Linked DNA regions of Homo sapiens: region 2 is linked to region 1. The links come from fine-mapping of genetic effects on gene expression. Tissue or cell type: blood mononuclear cells. Region 1 holds a variant in brackets; the other region holds the start of a gene. All regions are shown on one strand. Distances are from middle to middle.

Region 1 (8,182 bases):
GGATTACATTTCCTACTTCAAAGGGAAAGGAGATAAAGAGACCTTGCTAAGAGGAGGTAACTTTAACTGCTAAAAATCTAGAAAATTGCCACATTATCCAGCAATGAGGAGTCTGAGGTCACCATTATGTGGGTAAGGATAAAAAAAGCTTGAAATTCCAGGCCATTCAATATTTGAATCAGGCTGACCTATGACCTCCTTCAGCAATACATAGATACTACATACATTTCCTTCCACTCCCAAACTAATCCTTACTGTTCCTGGTGGATAAAATAAGACTAACACTATCCCCTACACTATGACCCTTCCTTATTATCTGAACTGAACTAATGATATATGGTGGGAGATGGGGAACTGACCTTGGGAATTATAAAAGGAGCATATGAGGAGCAAAAGAGGAACTCCTCCAAAAGAGGAACAGACTTCAGAGATGTGACAAAGTTTTCTGAAAACTCCTGATGATGACTCTTATGAGGCTGGCTTTAAATTTTAGAAACAGATAAAATCAATATGAAGACATGTCTGATGATTGCAACTGGAAAAAGTAGGTCACATAATTTTTTAATCAGGCCGGTGCAGTGGCTCACATCTCTAATCCCAGCACTTTTGGAGCTGGTGTGAGTGGATCACCTGAAGTCAGGAGTTCGAGACCAGCCTGGCTAACAAGGTGAAACCCCGTCTCTACTAAAAATACAAAAATTAGCCGGGTGTGGTGGTATGCGCCTGTAGTCCCAGCTACTCAGGGGCAGGAGAATCGTTTGAACCCGGGAGGCAGAGGTTGCAGTGAGCCGAGATCACACCACTGCACTCCAGCCTGGGTAACAGAGCGAGACTTTCAAATAAAAAATAAAAAATAGGCCGGGTGAGGTGGCTCACGCCTGTAATCCCAACACTTTGGGAGGCCAAGGTGGATGGATCATGAGGTCAGGAGTTCAAGATCAGCCTGGCCAACATGGTGAAACCCCATCTCTACTAAAAACTACAAAAATTAGCCAGGCATGGTGGCAAGCGCCTATAGTCCAGTCCCAGCTACTCGGGGAGCTGAGGCAGAAGAATCGCTTGAACCTGGGAGGTGGAGGCTGCAGTGAGCTGTGATCGCATCACTGCACTCCAGCCTGGGTGACAGGGCAAGTCTCCGTCTCAAAAAATAAATAAATAAAAAAAAATAAAAATAAAAAATAATTTTTAAAATCAAAATTAACATGACTATATATGATGTAGAAATCTTTTCCTTAGGTTTATAAACATGCTCTGGAGACAATTTACAAAAATGTTTTAAATAATGATTATGTTGTTGGAATAAGTATAGAACTTTTCAAGGCAGCCATTCTAATAGGAAATATCTATTTTCATGTAGAAGTTACTTTAGGTTTACAAAAAATTAATTTTATTTACATAAAGCACTCAGTAGAGTAGCACATGGTAAGTGCTCAATAGATGATAGTTGCTATTATTATGTCATCTACATACCACATGTGCTTTCCCCAAAAGAGGAATGGTGGTAGGGTGACAAGGTAAGCAATTCTCTGAAATCTGCCACAAACGGCTCTTTAGCTCTTGGACTTCTAGGATTCACCAGAGCTGTGCATATATGTTAGATGAATGAAACAAAAGGGGTTTGACCCTGTAATGGATTTTTAATGACAACTCAATGAATAATCAGCCCCTATTCTCTTTCTCCCAGCCCCCTCCCTTTTGTTACCTCCTTTTCTTTTTCATTCAGCTTCTCTGTGCCAGGGAGGCCAGTGAGGTTCAAGGGTGGTGCACTCCGTCTACCTATAGACAGAGAAAGGAAACAGCATAGATTTAATAGGAGTGACAATTTCTCAGGTGTAAAGTATTAAAAAGTTCAGTGCAGCCAGGCCAGTTAGGTATAGGATCACTATATCCAGCTTAGGAAATCCTGTCCCATTCCCTCAGGCCTGTTTAGCTAACAACATGGGCACCCGAACATTCACTTGAAAATGAATTACATATTCAGGGCACATGAATTACCCATAATCTGCTAAAATACACATACAGTCACACATACCTTAGCATCAAATGTAACTACTCACCACAGTAGTTATCTCTTATTTATTATTATTATTTTTGAGACAGGGTCTCACTCTGTTGCTCAGGCTGGAGTGCAGTGTTGCGATCATAGCTCACTATAGCCTCAATCTCCCTGGCTCAAGTGATCCTCCTGCCTCAGCCTCCCAACTACCTGGGAAGACAGGCATATGCCACCATGCCCGACTATCACCTATTTCTTCCTAACCATGTAGGAGACTCTAAAATCTGATGCCCAGATGTCATCCAGTTAAGAAACATCACACAATGCCTGCTTTGACAGCTGACGAATGGAAATAATAACTGCAGAACAGACATTCCCTAATCCTTGCCACTCGGCCAGCAGTACAAGGCAAACATGGTAATTAACCAAGTACTGTGTGCCTTCAGATCAAAGAAAGACTGTTAGGCCAGCAAAAGGCCCTTCTTTTTTATTATGTGAGGGAATATCTGTTCCTTCCAAAGTAGCCCTGTTTACCTGCAAGATCCACAAACAGGAACAATGAGCCATTATATGGCAAAGCAGGGGCTGAGGTCAACTCACACACCTGAGAAAGAAACCCAAGTAGGAGGTCACTGGCCAGGAGGGGAAGCTTGATGAGCAAAACTTTTTTGGTTTTGTTTTGAATGTGTATTAGGGATTGGTATTCAGCTGGGAATGGATAGACTGAGTTAAGCAAAGAAAATGTCGAAGTTTTATAGAGGTTGCTTTTCAAGTGGGGCAGAGAAAGGGGAGGGACTGTTACAAGCTCCACTGGTGGAAAACAGGCTTCTCTGTTACATCAACAAAAGGCATAAGGGATTATTCCAAATCCTCAAAAAGGGAGATAAAACCATTTGGTTCCTCACAAAAGTCACCAGAGGCTAGGCTACAATCAAAGATGCCAGGCTTCCAATACATAGTTGCCTTAAGAACTCAGAACATAAAGGAGAGCAAGAGATCTCCTCAGCCTAAATATAAGGGGTGAGAAAGGCTAACACAGGCTAGGAACAAACAATGAACAAGAGGCCGGGTGCAGAGGCTCACACCTGTAATCTGAGCACTTTGGGAGGCTGAAGCAGGAGGATCACTTGAGCCCAGGAGTTCAAGACCAACCTGGGTGATATAGTAAGACCTTGTTTCTACCAAAAAAAAAAAAAAAAAAAAAAAAATTTCTCCAGGTTTGGTGGCATTCACCTGTAGTCCCAGCCACTCAGGAGCTGAACTGGGAGGATCACTTAGGCCTGGGAGTTTGAGGCTACAGTGAGCCATGATCACATACTGCACTCCAGCCTGGATAGTAGAGGGAGACCCTGTCTCACAAAAAAAGAAAAAAGAAACAATGAACAAGTCAGTGCAGATAGTACAGAGAACAAAAATATATGATCATGTTAGCCAGTTCCTTCATTTAATTTAATTAATTAATTTATTTATTTTTTGAGATGGTCTTAACTCTGTCACCCAGGCTGGAGTGCAATGGTGCGATCTTGGCTCACTGAAACCTCTGCCTCCCGGATTCAAGCGATTCTCCTGCCTCAGCCTCTGGAGTAGCTGGGATTACAGATGTGTACCACCACACCCAGCTAATTTTTATATTTTTTTTTCAGGAGAGATGGGTTTTCATCACGTTGGTCAGGCTGGTCTCAAACTCCCAACCTCAGGTGATCTGCCCGCCTCAGCCTCTCAAAGTGCTGGGATTACAGGCATGAGCCACTGCACCTGACCCAGTTCCTTCATTTTAATTAGCCAGTATTAACTTAGTTGTATTTAGATTTTGGGGGTAGAGTGTTGGCAGTAAGAAACTTACAAAATAAAACTTTGATTTCACTGTCTTAGCCACTCCCCTAAAACAATACCTTTTTCTTCTTTCCATATTAAGAAAAAATCACTTGAAATAAAGGAATAAATGGGGGAAAAAAAAAAGTCCCTTCAGTGACCAGGCGCAGTGGCTCATGCCTGTAATCCCAGCACTTTGGGAGGCCGAGGCAGGCAGATCACCTGAGGTCAGCAGTTCGAGACCAGCCTGGCCAGCATGGCGAAACCCCATCTCTACTGAAAGTACAAAAATCAGCTGGGCATAGTGGCAGGCGCCTCTAATCCCAGCTACTTGGGAGGCTGAGGCAGGAGAATCGCTTGAATCCGGAAGGCAGAGGTTGCAGTGAGCCAAGATCGCGTCACTGCACTCCAGCCTGGGTGACAGAGCGAGACTCCATCTCAAAAAAAAAAAAGTCCCTAACGCGGACAAATCTGAGACCCAGATTCTGAATCTACTGAGACATACCTCCCCCAATTCCCAGTCATCGATTACCAATCACCAAGGATCATCAGATAGCGTATGGCTTAATCTTGCTCTGTATACTAATTTCAAAATAGGACATACTCAAAGAGGTAAAACGAAGAAATAGAAATACTTTAGGTCTCTAACTCAGAAATCCTTATGTTTCTGGCAAGTAACATGCTTCTTTGCTCATGTTATATAAAAATAAAAAGTTTAGGCTGGGCACGGTGGCTCACGCCTGTAATTCCAGCACTTTGGGAGGCCGTGGTGGGTGCCTCACTTGAGGTCAGGAGTTCGAGACCAGCCTGGCCAACATGGCAAAACCGTCCCTACCAAAAATACAAAAATTAGCCAGGCGTGGTGGTGCATGCCTGTAATCCCAGCTGTTCGGGAGGCTGGGGCAGAAGAATCACTTGAACC[C/T]GGGAAGCGGAGGTTGCAGTGAGCCGAGATCACACCACTGCACTCCAGCCTGGGCGACAGACCGAGACTCTGTCTCAAAAAATAAGTAAATAAATAAAAAATAATAAAATAAAAAGCTTTTAATTTATCTCCTGTGAAATAAGTCTCAAAATTAGTGGTAGACACAACTGCAGTAAACTAACTGCTCATGAACATTGGTAAAATAAAGAAGTTACCTCTCTGAAGTTCTTTTTTCCCCTGTCTCTATACTGTCTATACTCTATACTGTCACTCTGAGGATAGTCTCTGTCTGGCCATGAAGGTTCTGAAAACATACTGATGTTTATATATTGGGCTAACACTTGATTACTGTTACTCTGCCTAAGCACCCTGACACCACAGAGGAAGGAAGATTGCTGGGTCACTATAACCCCTACGATGCAAACTTCACAATTAAGACTTGTTCTGGCCTGAGAAATAATTACCTGAATTCGAAGCCATTGGAATGGAAGGACTCAGGCCGGAATCACTACAACGAAGAAGAGGAATTTAAACTTAGGTCATATCAAACAAGGTGATTTCCAAAAGCCCCGGTGAGACTGGGTGCCATTTATCAGGTAGGTCACCTTGAAGAAGTGTAATGAGATAGACTGAACTATGTTTTACAGATATCTCACTGTATTGAGCAGGAAAGAAAATCTGTTCTGAGGAAGAAAAATTCCTCAGATTTGTTAAGAAGAGCTTGTAATCTAGAACACCACTAACACCACTCAAGGGGAAGGGATACAAACATGATTCCCCAGTGAAAATCTAGGTATGAAGAGAGAGTTGAAGTCATGGGTAGAAGGCTGGGGGAAAATACACTCATTTTAAAAAATAGGATCAAAGTAGTAAAGTATGATTCTAGGAGGTCAGTTATTTCTCAAAACTGTCAGTATGGCACTGTTTCTGAGATGGACTGCTAAAATATTTCTGAATTCTTCCAGCTACTCAATTATTATTACTCTGCCATCTAGGGTGCCCAAAAATATATGTGAAGGCCAAGGCATCCCAGAAAGAATGCCTCCTTCACCCTGGAGTAATTACTCACATGTCAGCTTGCCGGCGGAGCCACTGCTGGCAAGCACTACTGTCCTGGATATACTGGAGAACTTCTGAGAGCATAGTGCGTTTAAGGCGCTCTTCCTCCCGTGTCTTCTTGAGGTGATCGTAGGTTCTGGCACCTGGGGGTATAGAAAACACAATGACCACAATGACAATGCAGCAGAACTGAAGGGCTTCCTAACTGACCAAGAAACCGGTTTTGGGTTTTGTTCTTAAAGTCTGTTTCCTTTGCAAAACTGCTTTCACAATTATTTCTCCAAGACCCAAGTAGATTTTCCCTAGTCTGAAATCCTTTTCTTAATACTAAGTATTAAATATTAAACATTTGTATTCCTTTTCTATCTGTAAGAAATAAGGGGAAAAAAACCAACAGAAAAGTACAAAGAAAGTAAGAATTGCTCATATTTCCACTCTCAAAAAGTAACCAACTTTTACTATAGTCATATTTGCTTCCTGTTTTTTCTATTTTTATAAATTTTTTCAAAGTCACACAAGTGCTATAAGCATATGCCTTTCCTTAAAAAACAATTAGAATTACAAAAAAAGAGTTCTCTTTGACATGTAGTACCTCTTCTCCATATTTCTTAGAGGCAGCCAATATCAGGAAACCAAAATTAGTTATCAGAGTCTCTATATGCATCTTGCTAAACAGAAGAGCTGCGTGGTGTTTTCTACATGTTAACAAAGGTTCACAGATTCCAAAATACTGCACCAGTGGGTTTCAAAATTCAAACTAGGTTCCACAGAGCCCCAGGATACCACAAGAGTATCTTAGAGGTTAATGTAAAGAGAAAGGGCACTGCCAGATACCGGCGGGTCCTGGGCTCTACACATAAATTGAACCATTAAAGTTCAACCAAAGTAATTCCACTTTTATCTTTTTTTGAGACGGAGTTTCGCTCTTGTTGCCCAGGCTTGAGTGCAATGGCGCGATCTCGGCTCACAGCAACCTCCACCTCCCAGGTTCAAGCCATTCTCCTGCCTCAGCCTCCGGAGTAGCTGGGATTACAGGCATGCGCCACCATGCCCAGCTAATTTTGTATTTTTAGTAGACACGGGGTTTCTCCATGTTGGTCAGGCTGGTCTTGAACTCTGGACCTCAAGTGATCCGCCCGCCTCGGCCTCCCAAAGTGCTGGGATTACAGGTGTGAGCCACCGTGCCCAGCCCACTTTTATCTTATTTGTAGATTGGGGCTCACACAAAATTTAATTTCAAAAATGGTTTCCACTGTTAAAGAGCCATTATACTAGGCTGAACTTACATCCATAAGGCTATGTTGCACCCACAGGGCTGTGTTAAGAAGCCAACTATTGCCGGGCGTGGTGGCTCACACCTGTAATCCCAGCGCTTTGGGAGGCTGAGGTGGGTGGATCACCTGAGGTCAGGAGTTCGAGATCAGCCTGACCAACATGGATAAACCCCATCTCTACTAAAAATACAAAAAAAAAAATTAGCCGGGTATGGTGGTGCATGACTGTAGTCCCAGCTACTCAGGAGGCTGAGGCAGGAGACTCGCTTGAACCTAGAAGGCAGAGGTTGTGGTGAACCAAGATGGCACCACTGAACTCCAGCCTGCGCAACAGAGCCAGACTCCGTCTCAAATAAAAAAAAAAAAGAAGCCAACTATTTCTTATAGATAGTAGGTGACAACTATCAATAATCACAAAAACTTCAAATAGGAAGAAGGAGGGAATGCTAAAGATCATTTCAACAATGACAGCAAAACAACAGAAACTGCCATTTATTGAGGAATTATTGTGTGCCAGATACTGTGCTATGCTTATATGCAGTATCTCTAATTAAATCTTTACACTAACTCTAAGAACCTTAGAAAATTAAAACTTGAATAGAGGCCAGGCACAGTTGCTCACACCTGTAATCCCAGCACTCTGAGAGGCCTAGGCGGGAGGACTGCTTGAGGCCAGGAGTTTGAGACCAGCCTGGGCAACATAGCAAGAGTCAGTCTCTAGGGAAAAAAAAAAAAGGAAAGAAAAATAAATTTGGATAGAATCACATCACAGAGCTGGCAAGCTGGAGAGCCAAAATTTATACTCAAGCTTTTTAAGTCTAGACCCAAGCTCTTAACTACTATAATACACTATCTCTTATGACCTGGTTCTAGTACTAACTAGCTCTGTAACCTCTTTATACCTTAATTTCTTCACTAAATGGAAGTAACGGTACTTTATAAGTTTGTCATGAGAATTCATTGACTTGATCCAAGTGAAATGGTTAGCATAGAGACTGGTACATGGTAAATATCTGATAGATGTTAGCTGCTAATAATATAATTATTGTCACTACCCCAAGTAACTGGGATGCAAGCACCTGGAGCCAGTTGAAGCTTCATTATTTTATAAAAATGCTA
Region 2 (8,182 bases), 66 kb after region 1:
GAGACAGGGTTTCACCATGTTGGCCAGGCTGGTCTCGAACTCTTGGCCTCAAGTGATCCGCCCACCTCGGCCTCCAAAAGTGCTGGAGTGCTGGGATTACAAGTGTGAGCCACCATGCCTGGCCCAAAGTATCTTCTTTGAAGCAGAAATAAAATAATATTTTACACTAAGTCAAAAAATAATCCTTCTTCTGTACACTCACAGCTTTTTGTTTTTGTTTTTGTTTTTTTTTGAGACTAAGTCTCGCTCTCGTTGCCTAGGCTGGAATGCAATGGCACGATCTCAGCTCACTGCAACTTCCGCCTCCCGGGTTCAAGCGAGTCTCCTGCCTCAGCCTCCCAATTAGCTGGGATTACAGGCGCGGGCCACCAGGCCTGGCTAATTTTTGTATTTTTAGTAGAGACGGGGTTTCACCATGTTGGCCAGGCTGGTCTCGAACTCCTGACCTCAGGCGATCTGCCCACCTCAGCCTCCCCAAGTGCTGGGATTACAGGCATGAGCCACCGCACCCGGCCCACTCACAGCTTTTTATCTGGCATTTTTCACATTCTACTTTGTGAGTATTACTTCTGAATGTCTATTTTCCCCCACTTCTAAATTAAGTGAAAGCAGGCTGGGTGTGGTAGCTCATGTCTGTAACTCCAGCACTTTGGGAGACTGAGGCAGATGAATCTCCAGAGGTCAGGAGTTTCAGACCAGCCTGGGCAACATAGTGAGAACCCCGTCTCTACCAAAAATACAAAAAAATTTGCTTGGCGTGGTGGCGGGCGCCTATAATCCCAGCTACTCGGGAGGCTGAGGCATGAGAGTTGCTTGAACCAGGCAGGTGGAGGTTGCAGTGAGCCGAGATTGTGCCACTGCACTCCAGCCTGGGCGACAGTGCAAGATCCTGTCTCAAAAATAAATAATAAATAAGTGAAAGCAGAGACTATATCGGATACCTATCTGTATGCTTTTAAAATGCCAAGCATACAGGAGGAATACAATAAACACATAGTAGTGGACTAATAAATGTTAATTCTACAAAAGGTTAATTTATCTTTAGCTTTTCTGAAGTGATTTTTTTCACCCTGGTAATTTTTAGCTTGGAGAATAATTCATCACTAAGTGTGGGCAACATTTCTGCTAACGCTGCCATCAAAGAACTTTCCCTTTTTGGGGTGGGGTAGGTCTCCCTTTGCTGTCCTCTCAGGAAAAGTTGAGCTCTGAAGAAAAATGAGTCTAGCAAGGGTGTATTACGAACGCAGCAATCAAATAACTGCCAAATTTACTGAACTTTTTCAATTTGCTAGGTACCCGTGGGTACCAAGGTGTGGGGATTCTTTGAATCCTCACTCCCACACTTTTGGGGCAAGCTGCTTTTTCAAAAGCAAGCAAGCTCTGAAAGAGTATGTTACTTGCGCAGTGTCTTACAAGGGATAGCTGTGTCATTTCAAATACAGATGTCAAGGCTGGACGCAGTGGCTCACGCCTGTAATCCCAGCACTTTAGCAGGCCGAGGCAGGCAGATCACCTGAAGTCGGCAGTTCGAGATCAGCCTGACCAACATGTAGAAACCCTGTCTCTACTAAAAATACAAAATTAGCTGGGCGTGGTGGCGTATGCCTGTAATCCAGCTACTTGGGAGGCTGAGGCAAGAGAACTGCTTGAACCCGGGAGGTGGAGGTTGCGGTGGGCTGAGAACGCGCTGTTGCACTCTGGCCTGAGCAACAAGTGTGAAACTCCCTCTCAAAAAACAAAAACAAAAACAGACGTCCAGTAAAGGATGCACAGTCAATAGGGACTGATCAACACTCGAAAAAGCACAGTAGGAGGCCGGGTGCGGTGGCTCACGCCTGTAATCTCAGCACTTTGGGAGTCCCAGGTGGGCAGATAACCTGAGGTCAGGAGTTCGAGATCAACCTGGCCAACACAGCGAAACCCCATCTCTACTAAAAATACAAAAAATAGCCAGGTGTGGTGGCGGGCGCCTGTAATCCCAGGTACTCGGGAGGCTGAGGCAGGAGAATCGCTTGAACCTGGGAGGCAGAAGTTGCAGTGTGTTGAGATGGCGCCATTGCACTCCAGCCTGGGCGAAAGAAACGCCATCTCAAAAAATAAAAAAATAGTAGGGCCGGGCGTGGTGGCTCACGCCTGTAATCCCAGCACTTTGGGAGGCCGAGGCGGAAGGATCACTTGAGGTCAGGAGTTCGAGACCAGCCTGGCCAACATGGTGAAACCCCACCTCTGCTGAAAATACAAATATTAGCTGGGCGTGGTGGCCCACGCCTCAGGCACGAGAATCGCTTGAGCCTGGGAGGCGGAGATTGCAGTGAGCCGCGATCGTGCCACTGCACTGCAGTACAGCCTAGGAGAAAAAAAAAAAAAGGCAAAAAAGCACAATATTGCAGTCTGCAGAATCTTCTTTCTCCCCCTTTCACAAGAGACCACATTCTGACACCAACTTCCGTGGAAACACTGGCGCTAGCTCCAAACTAACAATCGCCAAATTCGAATCAGTTACCGGGAGAAGGAAGTGAGGCACTTCGCCGGGCAGGAGTCCACGTTGGGAGGAGGAAAGGCGCAGGCTCCCGAGTTGTGGAGCCAACGTTCAAATCCTTACGGGGTGGGACCGGCCTGGGCCAGTCATTTTACCTGCGCCTCAGCTCTAACAGGGTACTGAAATACCTACTTTGGGGGGCCTGCTAGGAAATTCAAATGGGCAACGCTGGTCAGGGGCATCTGGCACAGTGGCCATTCTTGGTAGAGCTACGCGCTCCAGGGCTGAGCGGGAAATGGCGAGGCCGGGGCACTGGGGCACCGCCCAGACGCGGGGCGGGCCCCCGGGGTCAGGCCCGGCCCCACACCGCCCTCCCCCACAGAGCGGCGAGGCCCGCCGCTGCCCGCCCGCCGGCCCGCCAGCCTGCCGCGTCAAGCCCGCCGCCGGGGCCCGCAGCCCGCGACTCCTCCCCCGCCGCACCTCGTGGCCCCCGCTTCTCCCTAGTCCCGCTAGAGGGGCTCGCGCTCCGCCACCCGCCCGCCCGCCCGCCCAGCGCTGCCTGGCGCCTCACCTCGCCGAGACCCCCTAATCCGCGCCAAAGAGCCGCCGGTCGCGCGCGCCTCCGGGCTTTGCGTGCGCGCCCCCGGGCGGCGCAGTGGCGAGCGCGCCGCGTGCCGCGCGCCCGCCGCCTCCGCCCCTCGGCCGTGGAGGCCCCCGCCGGGTGCTGAGCGCCCGCCACCGCCCTCTTGGCCTTTTCCCGGTCCCCGCCGCGCGCCTGCTGCTGTCCCCGTGCCCGAGGACTGGGAGGATGGGGCTGAGCCGCTTGCCTGACTTTTGATCCGACCAGTAATCACTTTGCCCGTGTGGCGCGTGGCCCGTTGCCTGAGGCTTCCTGGCGCGTGGGGCTGTTTGGTCCCCTCCGGAGTGCGGTGAGGCGGGCCGAGCCGGGACTGCCTGGGTTTGGGGATAACGTTCCCATCTCCACCCCTGTTGCAGCAAGGGAAATTGAGGCTGAGGGAACTGGGCCCAGGGACGGCGAGCCGTGGCGCCTCTCCAGTCCGGGCCCCGAAGGGCTGCTCGTGGATGAACCAGACTGATTTTAAGGGGTGAAGAGGGTGCGTTTCAATCAGATGCTCCTGGAACGTCGAAATTGTCTTCTTTGGAAAGAACCATCCCCTCTTTGGGCTTCAGAGGCCCAAATTGAGGCGCAATGATGAGAGGATGTGGTGGTCTACTCTGATGTCAATCTTGAGGGCTAGGTATGTCCCAAGATCTCTTATTACTGCTGTTAATGATGATTCTAATAGCTACCATTTGTCGAGTACTTATTGCATGCCAGACATTGCACAAAGCAGGTTACACATACGGTCTCATTTAAAACTTGTGAGGTAGGCACCTGTTGTTATCCCTATTTTCCAGGTGAAGAAATCTAGGCACTGACATAAATAACTTGGGATCACACTGCTAGGAAGTACTGGGGAAGGGAATTCAAACCATGGTTTATCTGAACTATATAACTGTTACATCTATTTAGAAGTCTGCCTTTGATAAATTTGCCCAACCTTTTTTTAGAATTCACTTACACTTTATGCCTGTGTGAACCCTTTCATTCTTTTTTGGTATATGCATAATACAAGTTCATTCCAAAAAAAAAAAAAAAAAAAAGCCCTGCCGGGCGCGGTGGCTCACGCCTGTAATTCCAGCACTTTGGCAGGCCGAGGCGGGCGGATCACAGGGTCTGGAGTTCTAGACCAGCCTGACCAACATGGTGAAATCCCGTCTCTACTAAAAATACAAAAAATTACGCGGGTGTGGTGGCAGGCACCTGTAATCCCAGCTACTCCGGAGGCTGAGGCAGTAGAATCGCTTGAACCCTGGGGGCAGAGGTTACAATGAGCCAAGATCTTGCCATTCCACTCCAGCCTGGGCAACGAGAGCGAAACTCTGTCTCAAAAAGAAAAGAAAAGGAAAGAAAAACCACCTCCCACCAGGTTAAATAAATAATTAACATTTTGGTATGTACCCTTCCAGACATTTTCCTATGCATCACATCAATAAATATATGATAGGATATTTTACATTTGATGTATCCTGAAGATTAATTCAACAAATGTTTAGTGAGTAGGCTTGTTGTAGGTGCTGGGAATTCAGCAGTGAACAAAACAAAGTCTCTGCCTCATGGAGCTCATATTATAGTAGGGAAGACTGTCAATAAGCAATATACACATTACTAAATGATAGATAATGCCCAGTAATGTGGCAAGTTTTATGGAAAAATAAATCAGGATAAAAGGATAAGAGTGATATGGGGATTCTCTTAGTTAGGGTAGATAAGGAAGGCCTCTTAGCTAAGGAGGCACATAAATATCTGATCATTTAATGAGAGAAGGAGCAACATGGATTTCTAGAGGGAAACTATCCTAGAAGAGAAGCAGCAAGTGCAGTGACCCTGAAATGGGGATTTGTTTGGCATGGAGAAAGGGCAAGACCAGTGTGGCTGGAGCACAGCAAATGAGAGAAATTAGATGGAAATCAAGGCAGATCATGTATCATCTGGTAAGGTTTGGATTTTATTGGGAAGTGACAGAATATGACGAAGGGTTGAGAGCAAAGGAGTAGCTTTGCTGTAAAAGGATCACTGTGGGCTGGGAGCGGTGGCTCACACCTGTAATCCCATCACTTTGGGAGGCCGAGGCAGGCGGATCACTTGAGGTTAGAAGTTCGAGACCAGCCTGGTCAACATGGTGAAACCTCATCTCTACTAAAAATACAAAAAAAATTAGCTGGGCATTGTGACGGGCGCCTGTAATCCCAGCTACTCGGGAGGCTGAGGTAGGAGAATCACTTGAACCTGGGAGGTGGAGGTTGCAGTGAGCCAAGATTGTGCCACTACACTCAAGCCTGGGCAACAGAGTGAAACTGCATCTCAAAAAAAAAAAAAAAAAAAAAATCACTGTGGCAGCTGTGTGGAGAATGGATGGTAGAAATATTAAAATTGCCCTTTGCCTGGTGAAGTGGTGTGTACCTGTAATCCCAGCTACTCGAGAGACTGAGGCAGGAGGATGGATTGAGCCCAAGTTTGAGACCAGTCTAGGCAACGTATCGAGACCCCCATCTCTAAAAAAATTTTAAATTGCTCTCTAAGGCATAAATTGTCCTTTTACATGGTAGTTGTTCAACAGATAGTTGATTAACATTAGTGTTTCACCTATAGCTGTACAGCTTTACAACCACTCTCAACTTCACATAGTGGAAGTGGGGTCAGTCATTTAGGACATATCTGTGTCTTTGTCATTGAAACTCAAATTTTGAGACTGGCTAAGGCAAATATCCAGATCTGGATGTCATGATTGTCAACAATGAATATCAGTAATCAGTGTTGTAATACTGTAGAAAAATTAGTCCCACATAATACTGAGATCTAGTCGTTAAAAACATAGCATTCAGGGGCCAGGCACAGTGGCTCATTCCTGTAATCCCAGCAGTTTGGGAGGCCAAGGCAGATGGATCATTTGAGGCCAGTAGTTCAAGATCAGCCTGGGCAACATGGCGAAAACCCATCTCTGCTAAAAATGCAACAATTAGCTGGGTGTGGTGGCGCATGCCTGTAATCCCAGCTTCTTGGGAGGCGCAAGAATTGCTTGAACCCTGGAGGTGGAGGTTGCAGTGAGCTGAAATCGCACCACTGCCCTCCAGCCTGTTCAACAGAGCAAGAGTCTGTCTCAAAAACAAAAAAACAAAAATCATAGCATTCAACTACCTGGAAATTACCCTCTCCCTTCAGTTGATGTTAGGCTCTACTTAGACCAATTTAGTCAGTGTGCTTAAGAAAGATGTGGAGAGGGCAGGACACGGTGCCTCACACCTGGGATCCCTGCATTTTGGGAAGCCAAGGTAGGCAGATCACTTGAGTTCAGGAGTTCAAGGAGGCATGAGAACTGGGCAACATGGTGAAACTTCGTCTCTACAAAAATTGCAAAAATTAGCCAGGTGTAGTGGCGCATGCCTGTAGTCCCAGCTACTTAGGAGGCTGAGGTGAGAGGATCACTTCAGCCCAGAGGGTTGAGGCTGCATTGACCCAGTATCACACCACTGCACTCCAGCCTAGGTGACAGAGTGAGACACTGTACCAAAAAAAAAAAAAAAAAAAAAGATGTGGCAAAATTAACATGCACAGTGAGAAGAAGGGTAACACTGATTACTGATTAAGGCAGTACTCCTCTGGGTTTTTGTCTTAAGTGGATGTGATAGTGGCATCACTTACACGACCAGCTGAAGGAAGAATAGATTTGGAGGAGAAATTGAAAGTTCTGTTTTGGATCTGTGTTTTGCATTCTGACTGGAAATGACAAATACAAGTCTACAGCTCATTGGAGGTGTCAGAACTAAAACTGTATAACTGTATTAGAATTGTTTATTTGGCTGTGTGTCTTACCTAGACAGACCTTGAGGACAGACACTGTTGTCTTTGTAACCTCAGTGCTCTGAAGTGTATCCTCAAATACTTGTGAAATGAGTAAGTAAAGGCAAAAGTAAAAATGAAGTCACTGGCTGGGTGCAGTGGCTCACGCCTGTAATCCCAGCACTTTGGGAGGCTGAGGCGGGCGGATCACGAGGTCAGGAGATCGAGACCATCCTGGCTAACATGGTGAAACCCCATCTCAACTAAAAATACAAAAAATTAGCCGGGCGTGGTGGTGGGCGCCTGTAGTCCCAGCTACTCAGGAGGCTGAGGAAGAAGAATGGCGTGAACCTGGGAGGTGGAGCTTGCAGTGAGCTGAGATCGTGCCGCTGTACTCCAGCCTGGGCAACAGAGCGAGACTCTGTCTCAAAAAAAAAAAGAATGAAGTCACTTAGGCAAAATGTAGAAGATACATACTCTATGCTTTCACTGAAAGTCTAAGCACCTGAATGTGACTTACAAGTAGGGTGACCATAATTTCTGATTTGCTGAGAATAGCCTGGTTTATATCTGTTGTCCCTACCTAAGTATTAATATTGCCTGGTTTCACTCTCAGTAAAGTCTCCATTTGTACAATAAATTTATATTGTCATTCTTTTTAGAAGGCCCTTCCAGATCTAGCATCTTCCTATATCTTTATCATCACTGCCCTATCTTAGACTCCATTTGCCAGCCAGGTGGACATACCTTCATTTCTCATATGCACTCTTAACTTCAAGGTTTTTTTTGCCAAGGTACTGCCTACCTCACTTAGACATCACTTCCTTAGGAACACTTCTCCTGACCCCCCAATGGCTGAGTTAAGTCACCCTCTTACATGTTCCCAGTACACCTTGTATTTAACCTGTCATAGCAAAGATGACTAAGTGCCTTGTTCCCTCACTAAATATCTCTGTAAAGGAACCCAAAAAAACACCTTTTGTCCTCTTTAAGCCATAAATTTATATTAATAATATCCAAATCCATGTTGAACCAGTATTTTTGAAGATTGACCTTCAGGATAAACTAATAGCACAATCTTCATGCCCTTTCATTCATAAGTAACTGAAAAGGTTGACTTTTGTACCAGGAACCCAACGAAGAAAACTTGTATCTTGTCAGGGTTGGTAACCTGGCTGCCATTGACTGAGACCAAAATATCCCAACAGTTTGTCCTCAGCTGCTAAGCTGCTGTGGTTAGAATCAAACGTAGAGTTTCTGGCCTGGTGCGGTGGCTCATGCCTGTAATCCCAACACTTTGA

What was found. PIP is the estimated chance that this variant, and not a neighbour inherited with it, causes the effect.
Region 2: ACACA starts here. The variant in region 1 is fine-mapped to the expression of ACACA in blood mononuclear cells (TOPMed, PIP above 0.99).

The regions. Positions count from the first base shown.
Region 1 is chr17:37,468,150-37,476,331 of GRCh38, reverse strand. TADA2A (transcriptional adaptor 2A) reads right to left here. Exons shown (of 16, transcript NM_001166105.3): 13 at 5,800-5,932; 14 at 5,195-5,238; 15 at 1,703-1,776. Among named protein-coding and RNA genes, the nearest start is that of DUSP14, 18 kb to the left of the region's middle. The variant C/T (reference allele first, on the strand shown) is at 4,731.
Region 2 is chr17:37,401,818-37,409,999 of GRCh38, reverse strand. ACACA (acetyl-CoA carboxylase alpha) reads left to right here and starts at 3,164. Exons shown (of 56, transcript NM_198834.3): 1 at 3,164-3,738. The coding sequence starts at 3,701. It overlaps TADA2A (transcriptional adaptor 2A), which reads right to left and starts at 3,114. Exons shown (of 16, transcript NM_001166105.3): 1 at 3,051-3,114. RefSeq lists an enhancer at 1,298-1,982.